Regions from separate parts of the Homo sapiens genome. Here regions 1 and 2 are each linked to region 3. Evidence: fine-mapped expression QTL. A gene starts in region 3. Each other region holds a variant in brackets. All regions are shown on one strand. Distances are from middle to middle.

Evidence for each region. PIP is the estimated chance that this variant, and not a neighbour inherited with it, causes the effect.
Region 1: its variant is the best candidate, but not a certain one, in a credible set for the expression of GNB1L in monocytes after LPS (Kim-Hellmuth 2017, PIP 0.83).
Region 2: its variant is the best candidate, but not a certain one, in a credible set for the expression of GNB1L in skeletal muscle (GTEx, PIP 0.74).

Annotation. Positions count from the first base shown.
Region 1 is chr22:19,790,486-19,797,230 of GRCh38, reverse strand. All of the region lies in intron 7 of GNB1L (G protein subunit beta 1 like), which reads left to right. It also overlaps the pseudogene RPL7AP70. Among named protein-coding and RNA genes, the nearest start is that of TBX1, 33 kb to the right of the region's middle. The variant G/C (reference allele first, on the strand shown) is at 2,616.
Region 2 is chr22:19,776,121-19,782,865 of GRCh38, reverse strand. It overlaps a transcript of TBX1 not described here. Among named protein-coding and RNA genes, the nearest start is that of TBX1, 19 kb to the right of the region's middle. RefSeq lists a silencer at 5,826-6,327. The variant C/A (reference allele first, on the strand shown) is at 3,338.
Region 3 is chr22:19,852,272-19,858,246 of GRCh38, reverse strand. It overlaps GNB1L (G protein subunit beta 1 like), which reads left to right and starts at 3,373. Exons shown (of 8, transcript NM_053004.3): 1 at 3,373-3,427; 2 at 3,708-3,804. It overlaps RTL10 (retrotransposon Gag like 10), which reads left to right and starts at 3,373. Exons shown (of 3, transcript NM_024627.6): 1 at 3,373-3,587; 2 at 3,708-3,804; 3 at 5,761-5,975. It overlaps LOC124905080 (a long non-coding RNA gene), which reads right to left and starts at 3,275. Exons shown (of 2, transcript XR_007068005.1): 1 at 2,535-3,275. RefSeq lists enhancers at 2,363-2,842, 4,265-4,883.

The DNA of each region.
Region 1 (6,745 bases), 61 kb after region 3:
GGCTCAGGGAGCTGGTGGGGAGCGTTCCCTCTTCTCCCGATGGATGGACACATTTGGGCGGTGGAGGTGGGGGGTCGTGAGTGACTGTAGGTTGGTCTTCGCCTGCACCATTACTGGGCAGTTATTTTCTCTGCCCAGGTTGTTTTCTTTGTGGACTAATTTAGGTTTCCTGATTTGGGGAATTTTTCTAGGAATTTGTCTGTGGGCATACAAATCCTGAAGGTTGTATTCCTAGTGACCTTTTTTGGACTGCTTGTGATGATTGTTTAAATTTCTGCCGCATTCAAAGCTCCGTCCCTGCTTTATTCCTGATCAGTCTTGTATGCGTTTGTCCTTGAGCATTTCTATCTTTCTGTTCATTGTTTCTGTCCTTGCCATGCTCTCCCTCCATCCCATGTCCCCTGGGTTGCATCTGCTGCCCTGCCTGGGGTCAGGTGCACAGCCCATCGGCACTCAGCCTTCCCTTGCCAGCCCCACATGGAGCCTGTTTCCAGAGGTGACTGTCCAGCTGGGCTCCCTGGTGCAAGAAGACATTGTCTTCCTCCCCCCACTTCCAGGCAGACCCCATTTTTATTATTTTTTCCCCATATTCCTCATTTGACACAAAGACCCCATTTTTATTTGTTCTCTGGCTGCTGAGTTAATTAGAATGTTTTTATGGTTCTGAATGTTTGATTTTTTTCCCCAGTTATTTTTTAGTTTTCAATTTCTAACTTAATTAACATTGTGGTCTGGGAACAAGGTCTGAATGATATTAGTTCTTTGAAATGCGGGGCCGTCCAGTTTTCATAAGCATTGCACATGTGCCAGGGAGGCAGTGCTGGTTGTCAGATGCCCCGCTGCACACGTGGGCGCCAGGCCCGTGTGTCCACTGATTCTTAGCCCTTTAAGTCATCCTGCAGGTCACCATGGTCCCCAGCAGGCGCAGAGAGGCCTGTCCTGTTCCCTTTTGCTGGGGGCCTGTCTGTATTTGCTTTATGCACTTTGAAGCTGGCCTGGGAACATGCCAGTTTAAAATGGTGATTTCCTGGTGAATGAGGTCTTTTCTTCATTCCCCCTCATCATCTCTAGAAAGGACATTTGCCCCAAAGCCTATTTTTCCAACTATTAATATGGCTCAGTCCAGGTTTCTTTTGGTCACTACTTCCCTTTATAGCCTTTACATTTTAATCATTTTACCTCCAACCTTCCTGGCCCTCCAGGCGTAGACACATCTCTTATGGAGCCAGTTCTCACATCGATGATTGCATGTCGTGTGTGAGCGTTGCCCTGGGTGTTCTTACATCTCAAGACCTCCTTCTGGAAGCCAAAAAGCGCATCCTTTAGGGATTCCTCAGGCAGGGGCCTCTTGGTGGCTGTGCTGGTGGCCTCTGATGCACGGGCCTGGATGCTGAGGGGCCGTTCTCTGAGCAGCAGCAGCTGCTGGGCCATGGGTCTAGGTCCTGCCACCTCCCTGGGCTGCTGAGAATTCAGCTCCCAGCCTGGCCACCTTCCATGTGACTCAGTCTCATTGGCTTTGACTTACTGTGTCTTCATTTTAATTCAGTTCAGAATATTGTGATTTTCTCTTTGATCTGTAGGTTCCTTGGTGGGGGTGTGTTATTTAATTTCCAAATATTCGTTGATTTTGTAGCTATATCTTTAATCTAGCTTAATTCTGTTGTCAGTGAATGCACGCAGTGCAATTGCAGTGTTTAGAAATTTATGGAGGCTTGCTTTTGGCCCAGCACATGGCGTGTCTCGGGGAGTGCACCACATGGACTTGAAAGGAGCGTGTGTTCCGCAGTTGTGGGGTGGAGCCTTCCGTCAGCCTGACCCAGGTCAGTGGACGTGGTTCCAGTCTTTAATATCCTTACCGATCTTTTGGTCTAGTTTTGTTTTTTTTTTACCAGTTACGCAGAGAAGGCTCTTAAAATCTTTAACTGTGATTGCAAACGTGCCTGTTTCTTTGTCTCTGCCAGTTTTGCTTCATGAGCTTTGAAGCTCTGGGGCTCAGTGTGGGTGTATAGGCGCTGAGATGTCACCTCATCTTGGTGCAGAGCCTTTTTCTCAGCACAAAGTGTCCCTTGTCTCTTGTTAATGCTCTTTGTCTTGAAGTTGGCTTTGTCTGATACTAAACAGTAGCATCGACTTTCTTAGGTTTGCCCTTTGCATTTTCCTCCTTGCTTCTACTTTCAACCTGTCCTGACCTCTTGATATTTAAAAAGCATCTTTTATTTTATTTTATTTTATTATTTTATTTTATTGTTTTGAGACGGAGTCTCACTCTGTCACCAGGCTGGAGTGCAATGGCGTGATCTCGGCTCACTGCAACCTCCGCCTCCCAGGTTCAAGTGATTCTCCTGCCTCAGCCTCTCGAGTAGCTGGGATTACAGGCACACGCCACCACACCCGGCTAATTTTTGTATTTTTAGTAGAGACAGGGTTTCACCATGTTGTCCAGGATGGTCTCGATCTCTTGACCTCGTGATCCGTCTGCCTCGGCCTCCCAATGAAAAGCATCTTTAGCAGACAGATGTGTCTTGCTTTGTGATGCTTTCTGACAATCTCTGCCTTTTAACTGGTGCATTTAGTCTGTTTGCATTCACTGTAATTATTGACATGCCTGGGATTAA[G/C]TCTAACACCTCTATACTTATTTTCTACTTGTCACTTCCATTTTTGACCACTTTTCCTCCTTTCCTACCTTCTTTTGTGGTAATCAAATATTTATTTTTTAGTATTCGGTTTTGTTTCCTCTCTTGGCTTCTTAGCTAGACCTCTTGCCACTTTTGTTCCTAAGTGGTTGCACTCCAAGAGTGTGCAACCTTCTCAAAGTCTCCTTAGAATCAGTGTTGTTTACATCCCGCCTCACAAACATGATGACCTTGTGCTGGTGCAATCCCTTCTACTCACCTTTTTAGTCTTTCTGTGACTGTTGTGATCTACTTGACGTCTACACACATTCAAAACTGCACCTTACAATATTAGTTTCCCTTTTCTTTGAGGCAAGGTCTTGCTCTGTCACCCAGGCTGGGGTGCAGTGGTGCAATCACAGCTCACTGCACCCTCAAACCCCTGCCTCAGCCTCCCAAGTAGTTGGGACTACAGGCACCTATCACCATGCCTGGATAAGTTTTTGTAGAGATAGGGTCTCACTATGTTGCCCAGGCTGGCCTTGAACTCCTAGGTTCAAGCAATCCCACATGCTGGGATTAAAGGCATGAGCCACTGCATCTGGCCAGTTTTCCTTTAAATCATCAGTTTAAAAAAAAACTTACAAGAAATAAAAAACATAACATGTTACATTTACTCACCCCTTTGCCATTTCTGGTGCTCATCCTATAGACCCAAGTATCCTCTTAACATTTTTTTGTAGTGCAATTCTGCTGGCAAAAAATTCTCTAGCTTTTGTTTATCTAAAAAATGTCTTTATCACCCTCATTTTTACAGAATCCTGGCTATGGAATTTAGGAATGATAGTTTTATTTTTCTTCATGCCCTGTAAAGATGTTGTTACATTGTTTCTGATGAGAACTCATGATATCCTATCATTCCCATGCATGTAATATGTCTTGCTCCGTGGCTGCTTTCAAGATTTTTTTTTATCTGTGGTTTTCAGTAGTTTGACTATCATGTGCCTAGATAGATTTTTCTTCTTGTCCTGATTGGGTTCTGCTGAGCTTTTCATCTATATATTCGTGTTTCCCATTAAAATTGGGAAATATCCAGCCACTGTTTCTTCTTGACCATTTTCACTTTCTCCTCCTTCTGGGGCTTCTATGAGTTACACAGTTTGATAGCATCCCATGGCCCCCTGAGGCTCTGTTTGTTTTGGTTCAGTCGTTTTTTCTCTCTTCAGATTGGGCAATGTCTGTTGATCTGTCTTCCAGTTCACTGACTTTAAAAAATATATATTTCCAATCTACTGTTAAGCCTATTCAATACATTTTTCATTTCAGTATTGAGCTTTCCAGTTCTATATTTTCTATTATGACTCTTTTTTATAATTTCCATTTCTCTGCTAAGAGTTCCTATTTGCTCACTCAAGACAATTTTTTGGGTAATTATTTGAATACACTTTCCTTTCATTTTTTTTTTGAAGGAAAATTTGTATTATTTTAATTATTTTAATGTACAGAAAACTCAACAGTGTACATTTAACCCAGTTTAGTGGCAAGTTCTTTAGCCTTTGCCTTTTCGAGCTTGGCGATACGAGCCACAGACTTAGGACCCAGGATGTTGCCGCCCCAGTGACGGCGGATCTCATCGTATCTGTCATTGTAATTGGTCCTGATAGCTTCCATCAGCTTAGCCAAAGTGCCTTTGTCTTCCGAGTTCACCTATGTGAAGGTGACAGTGGTGCAGGTCTTCCTGTGGACTAGACGTCCCAGTCTTGCCTTCCCCTTGATAATGCAGTAAGGGACCCCCATTTTACGACACAAGGCAGGCAAGAAGACAACCAGCTCGATGGGATCCACGTCGTCTGCAATCACCACCAGCTGAGCTTTCTTGTTCTCCACCAAGGTGGTGACGATGTTAACTCCTGCTCGAAGGACAGGTGGTCTCTTGGTGGGGACGTCCCGTTTGCCAGCAGCTTTCTTCTCAGCCCAGGCCAACAGTCTCTGCTTCTTCTCTTGCTTTGTCTCTGGTCTGTACTTGTGGGCCAGCTTAAGCAGCTGAGTAGCTGTTTGGCAGTCCAGGGCCTAGGTGAACTGGTTAATTGCAGGAGGCACTTTCAGCCGCTTATAGAGGATGGCTCTCTGCCGCTGCAACCTGATATAGCGGGGCCATTTCACAAAGTGGGTGAGGTCTCTTTTGGGCTGGATGTCCTGTCCGATGCCAAAATTCTTAGGCCTTTTCTCAAACAGGGGATTCACCACTTTCTTAGCCTCCTGCTTCTTCATGACAGCAGGGGCCAGAGCCACCTTCTTTCCCTTGGCCTTCTTTCCTTTTGGCATCTTGGGTGGTGGGAGAGAGCTCCTTTCATTTTTTGAACATAGTTAAGGAGTTTCTTTAAAGTCTTTATCTGATATGTTCAACATCTCTGCCATTTTGGGGTCAGTTTCTATTAACTGCTTTTTCCCCTTGACTATGGGTCATATATTCCTGCTTCTTAGCATGTCTACTAATTTGCTGTTTGTGTGCCAGACATGGTAAATGATACATGCTGAATCTCTGGGTTCTGTTATTTTGCTCTGAAGAGTGTTTGCTTTCATTCTGGTATGGAGTTCAGTTACTGACTGTTCACCTTGAGCTTGTGCAGGCTTGGCTTTTGGCTTTGTTAGGGCAGGTCTGTGGAAAGTTCATTCCCAGGCTTGTTTAGTGGGGTGGACCTCAACTTCCAAACTCTGCCTCTCCTGCAGACCTTTTCAGGGCTTGGTTTCTAGTTTTGTTCTGGTAGATCTAGGGTAGGCCATACTCTAAGATAGAATCCTATTCCTGAAGTGAAGCCGTTCTGGTAGCTCAGCTGGTCTCAGGCTGTCACACAGTCTTCACATTCAGGCTGACTGGACCCCCGGCACTGTTGACCTCTTGAACTTGTTCTGTTTAACTGTGCAGCTCTGGTAAGCCCTGTGGAGTCCACCGTGAGCATGCGCAGTCCAGCCCTCACACAAGACTCATAGGGACCCCCTCAGACAATCTTCAGCTCCCTCTGTTCCTTTGCCTTGCCCCATGGATTTCAGCCCTCTGGCTACTGCAGATTATGATCTCTGCCTCCTCAGCTTAATGTGACCACTATGTTCTGCCTGGACTTCATGCTCATGGCATTGTCTCCAGGCAGAGAGCTGTGGGGGCATTTGGGAGGCCCACCTCATCAGCTGCCCTTCTCTGCCTAGTGCTCCCTGCCTGTAAACAGTTGCCTTGTGTATTTTGTCCACTTTTTATGGTTGTTTACAGCAAGAAGACTAGTCTGGTACCAGTTTCTCAATTATAGACACTTTCCTATTGTTCTTGCTTTATGGATGATATGTCAGTTTACTGGCTAAACAGATATTTACAGTTATTTTGGGGGGTGGGGAGCACAAGGTCTTGCTCTGTCACCCAGGCTGGAGTACAATGGTGTGATCACAGCTCACTGCAGCCTCAAACTCCTGGGCTTAAGCAATCCTTCCACCTCAGCCTCCCAGTAAGCTGGGACTACAGGTGCATGCCAGCATGCATGGCTAATTAAAAAATTTTTTTTGTAAAGACAGTATCTCTATATGTTGCCCAGGCTGGTCTTGAACTCCTGGGCTCAGGCAGTCCTCCTGCCTTGGCCTCCCAAAGTGCTGGGATTATATGGCTCTTCATTGGGAATTGTACTCTTTATCATTGTTAAGTCTTTTATATAATCTTACCTAATGCTTTGGCCCTGAATTCAAATGTTCCTATTATTCAGATTACCCTGTTCTTATTTGCATTTTCCCAGTATATCTTTGCCAAGAGTTCCTTTGGCATCCTCCTTGTACCTAGCATAGATTTAGATTTCACTTTGAAATTCAATCATAAACCTAGACTCAAATGATCTTCCAACCTCAACCTCCCAAGTAGCTGGGACTACACGACCACACCTGGCTAATCTGTAATGTTTTTTAAAGACAGGGTCTCACTCTGTTGCCCAGGCTGGAGTGCAGTGGTGTGATCTTAGCTTACTACAGCCTCAAACTCCCAGCCTCAAGCAATCCTCCTGTCTTTGCCTCCCAAGCAGCTGGGATTACAAGCATGAGCCACCACACTCAGCCTGTTGAGTATATTTAGATCTTTTTTTTACTTTATGCAGCTATAC
Region 2 (6,745 bases), 76 kb after region 3:
GGTCAAAGTGTTTGTGGCCTTTATCAAATAAGGCTTGTCCTTGTTTCTCTTTGTGTAGCAAGAAAGAGTGAACACAGACAGCTGAGGCCCCAGAAACAGGGAAGGAGCTAGAATCCATGCACATCAGCCTCACACACCATCAGTAGGTGGGAAGAGTCCAGTGTGCACCCACTCAGCTTGCACAGCCACAGGCAGCCTGCCCAGGACCACCCTGTCACTCAGCCCTGCGGGTGTGATAAGACACTGACAAGGAAGGTTAGTCCTTCCTTGTCCCAACACACCAGGCAATATCTCCAAATGAAAGGATAATGCAATGGGCTCTCCCATCCATGAAACCCAAAGAATCGCTCATCTCAGGAAGAGATGCTAAAGTGTCACAAACTGAAAGCAAATACAAAAGATGGGCTAAAGAGTTCCTCAACATAACAAGAGGTTTTGTTATCAAAAGAGACTCAGCATTAAAAATAATAAAATACTTAAGAATTAGCTTAACTAGGGAGGTGAAAGACTTGTACACTGAAATCTATAAAACACTGCTGAAAGAAATTAAAACATAAATAAATGGAAATACATCCCATGTTCATGGATTGGAAAACTTAACATTGTTAAGATATCCATACTACCCAAAGCAGTCTACAGATTCAATGCATTCCCTTCAAAAATCCCAATGACATTTTTTGTAGAAATAGAAAAAGCCATTTTGAAATTCATATGGAGTCTCAAGGACCCCTTAATAGCTAAAACAATCTTAAAATGAATAAACTTGGAGGATTCATACTTCCTGGTTTCAAAATTTACTATAAAGCTATAGTAATCAAAACAGTGTGGTACTGGCATAAAGGCAGATGTAAAGACCAATGTAATAGAATAGACAGCCTAGAAATAAACCAGTGATATTTTTCTCAATTAGAAACAGGGTCTCACTGCGTTGCCCAGTCTGGTCTTGAACTCCTGGCCTCAAGCAATTCTCCTACCTCTGCCTCCCAAGTAGCTGGGACTATAGGTACATGCCACTGCACCTGGCTGGCCAAATGATTTTTAATGTGGTGACCATTCAATGGGGGAAAAGACTGTCTTTTTAACAAATGATGTTGGGAAAACTGGATTTACAAATGCAAAAGAATGCAGTTTGATCCCCCACCTCATACCCTATAAACTCAAAATAGAGCAAAGACCTAAATTAAGACCTAAAACCATAAAACCCTTAGAAGAAAACATAGGCCAAAAGCTTCATGACATTGAATTTAGCAATAAATTCTTGGATATGACACGAAAGGCACATTTCACAAAAGAAAAAAATAGACAAACTGGACTTCATGAAAATTTAAAAGTTGTATGCATCAAAAGACACCATCAACAGAGTAAAAAAGCAGCCCACAGACTGAGAGAAAATCTTTACAAACCATATATCTGATAAGGGATTAATATCCACAATATATAGAGAACTCCTAAAACTCAACAACAACAAAAAAGCCGATTCAAAAATGGGCCATCCTGGGTGCCGTGGTATGTACCCAGTTATTCAAGAGGCTGAGGCAAGAGGATCACTTAATCCAGGAGCTGGAGTCCAGCCTGGGCAACATAGTGAGACCCTGTCTCTAAAAATTAAAAATTAAAAAAAAATAGACAAATGACTTAAGTAGACATATCTCCAAAGAAGATGTATGAGTAGCCAGCAGGCACAGCATCACTATCCTCTGGGGAAATGCAAGTCAGAACTATAATGAGACAGATACTGCCTTACACCCATGAGGATGGGTACACCAAAAATAAAAACAAAACAGGGCCGGGTGCAGTGGCTCACGCCTGTAATCCCAGCACTTTGGGAGGCTGAGGCGGGTGGATCACGAGGTCAGGAGATCGAGACCATCCTGGCTAACATGGTAAAACCCCGTCTCTACTAAAACTACAAAAAATTAGCTGGGCGTGGTGGCGGGCACCTGTAGTCCTAGCTACTCGGGAGGCTGAGGCAGGAGAATGGCATGAACCCAGGAGGCAGAGCTTGCAGTGAGCCGAGATCGCGCCACTGCACTCCAGCCTGGGCGACGGAGCGAGACTCCATCTCAAAAAAAAAAAACAAAAAAAAAAACAGAAAACAAGTGTGTGGAGAAATCTGAACCCTTGTGCGCTATTGGTGGGAATGTAAAAATGGAGTAGCAGCTATGGAAAACAGTGTGGTCATTTCTCAAAATCCTGGACATAGAATTACCATATGAGCCAGCAGTTCCTCTTGTGGCAGAATACCCAAGAGAACTGAAAGCAGGGCTGCAAAGATATTTCTATACCCACGTTCATAGCGGCATTACTCACAGCAGCCAACAGGTGGGAGCAACCCAAGTGTCCATTGACAGAAGAATGAATCAACAAAACGTGGTACAGACATACAACAGAATAGTGTTCAGCCTTATAAAGGCAGGGAGTTCCGACACAGGCTAGAACACGGATGAACCTTGAGGTCCTTACACTCAGTGAACTAAGCCAGCCACAAAAAGACAAATGCTGTGTGATTCCACTTACATGAGGCGCCTAGAGTAGTCAGATTCACAGAGACAGAGAGTAGAATGCTGGCTGCCAGGGGAGGGGAATGAGGAGTTCTTGTTTAATGGGGACAGAGTTTCAGTTTTCTGAGATGAAGAGTTCTGAGATGGCTGGTGGTGATGGCTGCACAGTCATGTGGATGGACTTCATGCCACTGAAATGTACACTTACAAAGGGCTACGATGGTAAATTTGATTTACGTGTATTTTCCCTCAATGTTAAAAACTGAAAACTAAAGGCCTGCTTAAGTCTAGCTAACTAGCAAATACATCACCTGACATAGTTCTCATTTTTGTGGTAAGAAGTTTACACAATAAATACGTCAATTTTATATGTCGATTTAAAAAATAAATAAGTAAATGTGAAGGGAAAGAGCCTGAGGGGGCAGTCAGGCTTACTGGACAGCAGCACTTGGCCTCACCGTGGTGCCTCCGCCTGGGAGCCGCCAGCCAGGGCTTTTCCCGAGTGATGTGGGTCGGATGCTAATCCCCAGGAGGGTGCTAAGAGCACGTCGGAGAAAGAATAAGAACGCGATAGAGAAAAGCACAGCTACTGCTTTCAGAACCAGTTTGAGGGAATCATCCTCATAGTGTGTGGGTGTCTGTACTGAGGTGTTTAAGGCATTTTTGGATCAGATATGTTAAGCTTGTAGTTTCCATTAAATATTTAGAAGTGTTTATAATGAGTTTACAGTCAATGTTTAAATGTCAGGAGAAATTTACTTTGTTTTATCCAACAAGTTTTGATTTATCAACTGGGAGTGTGACTCTATGGAGAAGTATTTATTACAAAACATGCA[C/A]TTTATTCATATTGGAATTTACTGAACAAGTCACTGTTTTTTTAATTTTGGAAATTTCAAACATGAACCAAAGTGAAGGGAAACACGACAACTCCATGTGCCCATGGCCCGGCCTCAGCATTCAACAAAGACGGTCACCTGCGGTCCTCCCAGCCACCAGGCCCTGGGTATTGAAGGGTTGGCACTCTGCGGGGCAGGGGAGCCCCAGGTTCACACAGCCACCTGCATCCCTCAGAAGCTCCACTTCTCTCTCTGGTGTGTTCCTAGACGTCTCAGCTTTCACTTCCTTGTCCTTCAGGACATGTCCACCTGGGTGACAACCCCATCCAATGAGAGTGGATGAAGTACCATGTCAGAGGTGCCTCTCTTTTCTTGCAGATCAGACTGCACAAATGTCCAGTGTCTGAACCGCATGGAAGGGCAGGACAGGACTGCATCTCCCAACGAGCCGAGCCGCCCACAGGACACAGACACAGACACGGCCTCCACAGCCACACCAGGTCCCACCTCAGCCCAGCACAGGCCTTTCCCACAGTCAGTGACCCCAAGGAAAGACGTCGGATCAGGGAACCAGATCTCCCCCTTACCTACTTTTATTTATTTTATTTGTTTGAGACGGAGTCTTATTGTTGCCTAGGCTGGAGTGCAGTGGTGCAATCTCAGCTCACTGCAACCTCCACCTCCCAAGTTCAAGCAGTTATCCTGCCTCAGCCTCCCAAGTAGCTGGGATTACAGGCACCTGCCGCCACGTCCAGCTAACTTTTATATTTTTAGTAGAGATGGGGTTTCAAAGGGGCTGGACACGGTGGCTCATGCCTACAATCCCAGAACTTTGGGAGGCTGAGGCAGGCGGATCATTTGAGCCCAGGAGTTTGAGATCAGCCTGCCCAACATGGTGAAGCCCCGTCTCTACTGAAAATACAAAAATTAGCCAGGCATGGTGGCGCATGCCTGTAATCCCAGCTATTTGGGAGGCTGAGGCAGGAGGATTGCTTGAGCCCAGGAGGTGGAGTTTGCAGTGAGCTGAGACTACGCCATTGCACTCCAGCCTGGGCAACCAGAACGAAACTCCGTCTCAAAAAAAAAAAAGAAGAAGAAAAGAAAGAAAGAAAAGAAATAAGGAGCAATGGCCAGGTGCAGTGGCTCACACCTATAATCCCAGTGCTTTGGAGGGCAAAAGCGGGAGGATCACTTGAGCTCAGGAGTTTGTGACCAGCCTGGGCAACATAGTGAGACCCCCATCTCTAACAACAACAACAACATCAAAAAAGCCAGGTGTGGTGGCACACACCTGTAGTCCTAGCTGTTCGGGAGACTGAGGAGGAAGGTTTGCTTGAGACTGGGAGGTTGAGGCTGCAGTGAGCCTTGATCACGATGCCACTGCACTCCAGCCTGGGTGACAGAGCAAGATCCTGTCTCTTGAAATGAGCAGGAATGTGCTGTTTTACTAGTTAAGAGTAATAAATCCTGGTTGGGTGTGGTGGCTCACGCCTGTAATCCCAGCACTTTGAGAGGCCAAGGCAAGAGGATCACTTGAGCTCAGGAGTTCGAGACCAGCCTGAGCAACATGGCAAAATCCCATCTCCACAAAAAACTTAAAAATTAGCCGGGCATGGTGGTGCGTGCCTGTGTTCCCAGCTACATGGGAGGTTGAGGTAAGAGGATCACTTGAGCCTAGGAGGTCAAGGCTGCCGTGAGCCATGATCATACCACTGCACTCCAGGCTGGGGGGCAGAGGGAGACCCTGTCTCAAAAAAAAAAAAAAAAAAATTAAGAGTAACAACACACCCTGAACCTGTGCCCAGCACACTGAAACCCAGTGAAAGGGGCTGAGAGAGGATGGAGAGGGGGAGACGAAAAGGACCGATACCCAGAATGGGTCAAAACAGACGAGAAGGCATGGGAAAGGCCAGCACGCTCTTTATAAGAGTAGAACTCAGCCACCCCATTACTGGGTATATACCCAAAGGATTATAAATCATGCTGCTATAAAGACACATGCACACGTATGTTTATTGCAGCACTATTCACAATAGCAAAGACTTGGAACCAACCCAAATGTCCAACAACGATAGACTGGATTAAGAAAATGTGGCACATATACACCATGGAATACTATGCAGCCATAAAAAATGAAGAGCTCATGTCCTTCATAGGGACATGGATGAAACTGGAAACCATCATTCTCAGCAAACTATCGCAAGGACAAAAAACCAAACACCGCATGTTCTCACTCATAGGTGGGAATTGAACAATGAGAACACACGGACACAGGAAGGGGAACATCACACTCCGGGGACTGTTGTGGGGTAGGGGGAGGGGGAGGGATAGCATTAGGAGACATACCTAATGCTAAATGACGAGTTAATAGGTGCAGCACACCAACATGGCACATGTATACATATGTAACAAACCTGCATGTTGTGCACATGTACCCTAAAACAGTATAATAATAATTAAATTATATTAAATTAAAATTTTTTAAAAAAACCTTAATGTTCAATAACATGCGCCCTCTGTAGCGTATGGGATTGAGCGTTACCCAGGAAGCTCCTCCCACCCCGTGTGCTGGCCCTTCCTGCCTGCACTGGCTGATCTGTGTTCTGTACTGTGGTTTTGCCTTTTCCCAGACAGCTTATAAACAGAGCCACGCGGCACGGCACCTCCCGAGCCTGCTTCCTTCCCTCCGTGAGATAAAGTCAAGACTCATCCAGGTTGCCTGCATCTGTAGGTCGCTGCTTTTCATCCACTCATTGGCAGAGGCACATGCGGGTAGTGTGCTGGCTCTGAGTTGGTGGCTGGCATGGACGTCGGCTACCAGCCTCTGCTTCCATCCCTTGAGGGTAGGCGTGCTCTCTTGAAGTCTTGCCCACCCAGACTGATCACATGCGGTTCTGCTTTTCAGGCCCAGTGGCTGCCCTTGAGACATGACCCCTCCCTCCCTGAGTGGGAGACCCAGCTCCTAAGCAGGGCAAGCAGGCCTGGCCCTGGGGTGGCCCGAGGTCCCCTGCACCCATCTCCGAGGTGATCCTGCCTCTGAAGAGCCCTCCACCCCGTGCAGGCCCCTGGGTGTTAGCTGTCCCTGCTGGAACATGAGCTCTTCTAGAGCAGGCACTGTGTGTCTTGCATTCATGGGATGGACACTTTGGCACTTTTGCCTTACCCTCCCACCCCCAGTGAGGGAGGACTGGGCCTTCCTGGAGCAAGGGGCCACACGTCTTCCTCCTGAGGAGCTAGGATCCTAAGGAAAGCTATAGAGCACCATATTGGGTAGGGACAGAGAAACCACCCCTGAGAGAGAGGGAGACCACGGGCAGACACGGAGCCACGAGCACAGGCCCCAGAGCTGGGGTGGACACGGGCCACAGCACTGCCTGTCCCTGGGGAAGCCGCTGGGACTTCCAGGTG
Region 3 (5,975 bases):
TTAATTTAGTGAAATTAAGTTAATGACATTTTAATGAAAATGAAAAACTTCTGTGTATCAAAAGACACTATCAACAGAGTGAAAAGGCAGCCTATGGAGAAATACTTGCAAATGATATATCTGACAAGGGATTAATATCCAGAATATCTAGAAAAATCTTACAACTCAACAATAAAAACAAAAATCCAGTGAAAAATGGGCATAGGACTTGAATAGCCATTTCTCCAGTGAAGATATACAAATGGCCAATAACAGGAAAAGATGCTCAATCTCACTAGTCATTAGAGAAATGCAAATTAAAATCACAATGGGACACCACTTCATACCGTTAGGATGGCTATTGGAAAAAAACAAAAGAGAAGGTAACCAAGTGTTGGTGAGGATGTGGAGAAGTTGGAACTCCTGTGCACTGTTGGTGGGAATGTAAAATGGTTCACTTGCTATGGAAAAGTTTGGCAATCTCTCAAAAAGTCAAACAAAATATTACCGTATCATTCAGCAATTTCACTCTTATGTACTGAAAGCAGGGACTCAAACATATACTTGTACACTAATGTTCATAGCAGCATTATTCACAATAGCCAAAAGGTGAAAACAACCCAAGTGTCAATCAACAAATGAATAAACAAAATCTGGTCAATGTGTACAAAGGAATATTACACAGCCTTAAAAATGAAGGAAGTTCTGACACATGCTACGATGTGGATGAACCTTGAAAACATGTTGAGTGAAATAATCCAGTCACAAAATGATAAATACTGTATGATTCCACTTATATGAGGTACCTAGAGTAATTAAATTCACAGAGACAGAATATAGAATGATGGTTACCAGGGGTTGCGAGTGGGAGGGGAAGAGGAGTTAATGTTCTGGAGTGAAGAAAAAGTTCTAGAAATAAATAGTGATCACTGGATATACAACAGCATGAATGTACTTAATGCTCCTGAACTGTATACCTAAAAATGGCTAAAATGGTAAATGTTACTATATTTTACCACAATAAAAAAACAGTCATATGTCACTTAACTGTGGGGATACACTCTGAGAAATGTGTCACTAGGCGATTTTGTCATGGAGGGATCCTCATAGAGTAACTTACACAAACTAAGATGGTAGAGCCTACTACACACCTAGGCTGTATGGTAAGGCCTGTTGCTCCTGGGCTACAAACTTGCACAGTGACTCTACTGAACAATGTAGGCAATTGTGACACAGTGGTATTAGTGCACCTAATCATAGCAAAGGTACAGTAAAAGTACAGTGCAAAAAATAAAAAATAGAACTGGTTAGGGCACTTGCCATGAACAGAGGTGCAGGACTGGAAGTTGCTGTGGGTGTGAGTGGTGAGTGAATGTGAAGGCCTAAGACATTATTGTACACTACTTTAGACTTTATAAACACTGTACACTTAGGCTGCAACACACTTATATTAAACATTTTCCTTTTTTTTTGAGATGGAGTCTCACTCTATTGCCCAGGCTGGAGTGCAGTAGCACAATCTCAGCTCACTGCAACCTCCGCCTCCTGGGTTCAAGCGATTCTCCTGCCTCAGCCTCCCAAGTAGCTGGGATTACAGGCACATACCACCACGCCCGGCTAATTTTTTGTATTTTTGGTAGAGACAGGGTTTCACCATGTTGACCAGGCTGGTCTCAAACTCCTGACCTCAAATGAGCTGCCCGCCTTGGGCTCCCAAAATGCTGGGATTACAAGCATGAGCCTCCACAGCGCCTGGCCTAAAAATTTTCTTTCTTCAATAATAAAATAACTATAGCTTACTGGATGACCAGTTACATATGTGGTCCCTAGTTGACCAAAACGTTGTTATGCGGTGCATGACAGTTATACACAGGAGAGGGCCTGAAAGAAAAAAAAAATTTGGACCAAAAAAGGCCTTTTCTGGCTCAGTTGGATTCATTTCTTCCACAGGCCCACTGCCCACTCTGCTGATGGGCGCTGAGCTGTAGACTGAGCTGCCTTGAGGCTGAGGTAAGCTGAATTTGTGGGAACCCCCACCTTTCCCTTGAGGGAGGAAGTTTAAATTATCAGGTCAATTAGGAAAGATACAACCGAAAAAAATCCAAATTTCATTCCCACTTCAAGGAGGCGTTTCCTGGCTCGGTGCCACTTTTATTATTTTTGGCCCAGGCTGCTGAAAGCCCCACAGACCCAGGGAAGGTACAATGTGACCTTTGATTCGCGTTTCAGGGATCAAAGTGAGTGAGTTTGGGTGTAAATGCAGATAACATTTCAGAGAGCTTTCATGAAAGGAGTCACTGGACCAGGGCAGAAAGGGAGCTGGTGTGTTACGTGTGTGTTCCCCTTGAGAAGCGTCACTTTCCGGTGAATCCGGCTGCCTGCCCGTGGCCCCAAGGACTCCTGGCTTGCATCCAGGTCCTTGGCCCACAGGCATCAGATCCTGAGCTGGGGCGCCTGCACCCTCTCCCACCTCTTCTCTAGGCACCGTGAAGCCGAGGAGAGGTGGCGTGGGACGGCTTGTGCAAGTGAGAAGAGCACCACCACTTCATCCTCACCTATCTTGTCCCAGGATCTGGGTGCTGACTCGGCAGGCTTGGGCTGGGCACGGCCCTGTGGGGAGGGCTTGGTAGCCTGCCCTCGCTGTCGTCTCCGGGTCCAGCCTCGGCCTGAGTCGGGAAGCACACAATTATATCCACAACAAGGAGGCCCAGAGGCCCTGCCTGCAGCCCCCAGGTATGCAGGTAGAGGGTCCTCTCGGACTGCCTGCCCCCTGCCTCTGGCGCCCAGCCTGCAGCTACGTCGAACCGGGCCCTAACAAGGTTCCCCGCACTGGCAATGAGTGATGAGAGGCACTCCGCGGGCACGCCGTTCCAGGGCGCTCACGAGGCCCAGCAGCCCCGCTATGCCCACATCCACCCCGACACCTGCAGCCCCCCAGGCTTAGCCCGGCCCCGCAGCAGCCCTCTCGACGCCCAGCAGCACCCCAGTGTCTGGCTGACGCCAGGGCAGTAACGGCGGGCTGAAGCAGCATCGGCCCCTCGGTCTACGCCACAGCCGGGTGCAGATTTCCCGGATCTGAGGGACCGCCGGGCACCGTCCGCTGGGGATCATGAGGGGCAGCTTTGGCCCGACCGTCTCGCGCCTGTACACGCGGCCCCACCTGATCCCGTGGCACTTGGCGCGGCGTGGGAATGGGCGCGCTCTCCCATCACCCACCGCGCGGCACTGCCGCGCCAGCAGGGACCGGGAGAGCCTGCGAGGTAGCGGCCACACGGCATACAGCGCAGGCGCGGCCTGGATGGGAGGAGCGCGTGGAGCGTGCCGGGAGCATGCGCCGGGTCGTACACGGCGGCCGCGCGCACGCTGGGGGCGTGGCTGCGCGATGTAATCGGTCTCTGGACGCTGCGCGGCGCTCCTAGGAGCAGGCGTTCCCGACTCCGGCAAGAGGGTCAGTGTGGAGGCGGGAGCCCGGGCGGCCGGCTTGAACTCCGTGCACGCGGGCCTGGAGCTGCGCCCCTGCGTCTTTTCCCGACTTCTGATCCGCAGAGGGGCACTCGGAGCCCCAGCCTGGGTCGCAGTGCCTTCGGTCTGCGGGCCTCAGTTTCTCGGTCCGCGCCGGGGGTTTGTGGGGGCACCTGGAGACATTTGGGCCGTTCTCGCAGTCTCGGGAAGCCGCGCCCGCTCCTTGCCTGGCCTCACGGCGGCCGATCTCGTTCTCCACTTTCTAGGTGGCGCCTGGACTCTCGCCCTCAGAGGGAGGCCCGTCCCACGGTCTGTGGCTACGGATCCCAGGACCCTCTTCGCGGGCGATTCGCGTAGCCTCAGGTGGGTGGGCTTCTTGTTGCCGTGGGCCTTGTGAGCTCGTATTTCCTGCATGGCGGTTGCTGGGGGGCGGGCGGTGCAGTCGTCTGCACTCAGCTTGCTTTAAGGCTTTGGGCAGGTTTTGTTCTTGGGGCTCCTGGGTCTCCCCAGAGCAGAGAACGGCTCCAGCGTTCCAGGTGCTGCCTTTGGCCTTGTGGGGGCAAACACACATGCGCCGTGGTACCTGCCCCTTTAGGATAGTGCTGTCCAGTCTAGAAGGGCCGAAAGTCTTCTATGCCAGGCAGTGTGGGGAGAAAAGTAGGGGGACCAACAGACTGATAGGCGTGGGAGGGCTAAGGTTCTCAAAATGGTGAGAGTGCGGCCCAGGGTTAGGAAGGCTCAGGCCCAAAGCAGGCCTGGCTGGCTGGTGCAGGGAAGCCTTCTCCCAGACTGCAGGGGACACAGGTGCGCAGGTGAGTGGGCAGGGTAGGGGACTGGGAAGAAGGGAAGGCAGAGATCTGGGTAGCACACTGTGGCTCCCGGGCATGGGGTGTGGTCATTGTGGGCAACCTGGATACCTAACCTTGGCTGGTGGTGGGAGCTGGGCCCTGGATCGGGGTCACTGCTTTTTTAGAGCTCAGTGAGGGACTGGACTGGACTCGACTCACGTCCAGGCCTTAGTATAATCCTGCAGTAAGGTGGGAAGCCAGGGTCATGGGCTGGGCTTTCAGGTGAAGACCCCCCCCCCAGAGGGGGGTCAGACCTGAGGGATTCCAGAGTGTTTGGGTGGTGGAGGTAGGGCCAGTGGCCCTGGCAGGTTCTAGTGCTGCAGGCCACCCTGGGAGGTACCTGGAGGAACTCACCCTGAGGGGGGATGGCCAGCAGATAGGAGATGTGGGATGAAGGTGTGTGCAGGCCTTGTGCTCCCAGTGAGCCGGTGGCGTTTGTGTGTGGGGTGAAGCAGAGAGTTTCCTGGAGGTCGTGAGTGGGCCTCCGTTTGCAGAGAGACTGGGGAGGGGGCTAGATAGAGTTAGGCTGCAGAGTGTAAGAGCCCTACAGGAGGGCTCCTTGCACTGGAATAGAACTGGCTACTGGCTCTGGAGCCTCCTAGGTGACTGCTGCGTGGAGAAGGAGGGGCGGGTCCAGCCATCAGACTGGGACTCCCCAGACCCTGGGCACAAGTGACTGGAGTGGCGGGAGCAGACAGCAAGTGGGGTTCCAGGATTTTACAATGGTGGGGGCTGGGATGCTCTGCTGTGGCTGGGATGGGGACTGTGGAAAGGTGGTGTTTGTGGGTGGGGGTGGCATTGCCTGCAGGTGGCACTCAGTTGTGAGAGGTGAATTTGGAAAGCATGTGGGGTCAGGAGGGAGCAGAGAATAGCAGGCTCACTGCTCTGTCGGGGAAGCAGGTAGGACCTGCTGTGTGCCTGGTGCTGGGATGTAAAAGAGCCTAATGACGACGCGGTCTGTGCGTTGTTCAGAGTTTTTGGGGCGGCTAGAGCCTACTCAGCAGACAAATGTAGTTTATAATCGCGTGCTGTATAGTAGTTAAGCCTCTGGTCTCTCCAGCCAGTTTTTGCTGCTTCCACCACTTATGGGTTAGTGTGTGGCTGCAGACAAGTTACTTCACCACTGTGTGCCTCAAAGACAATGCTAGTACCAACCTCCTGTGGGGGAGGTGGCACAAATGGGGCACTCAGTGAAAGGTTACTACTATTGCTATCCTGAAATTCCTGACAGTTCTGATCTGGCCCCTTTTCTTCTGAAATTGACAGCATCTGTCATTCTGCCTTGCCCTTGCAATGTCATAGGCAGCATTTGCCCACCTCAGACCTCCCAGGCCAGCCCCCTGGGCCCCTCCTTCCATTCAAAGCTCCTAGTTGGGTACCAGAGGGTTGCCCGCTTGTAGCCTCTTCCCACCAGTCCAGTGGGTGATGGTTAGGCCTAGTTCCTGCTCTTCCCCACCTTGTCTTTGGACAGATTGCCTCGGATGATGGCCTGCGACTGACAGTCTCTCAGCTCTTCTCAGCTCTCCTGAGGCTGCAGCTGTCAGCTCCCTGATCCTCAGCACTTGCCTGGACCAGTGCGGGTCTGCCACGCCCTGTTCAGCCATCCCTGTCCTGTTGTGTCGTGCAAGCCACATCTGTCCACACCCCCACCACCCACCAGTGCTGGCTCTCCTCTCTTCTCCCCTG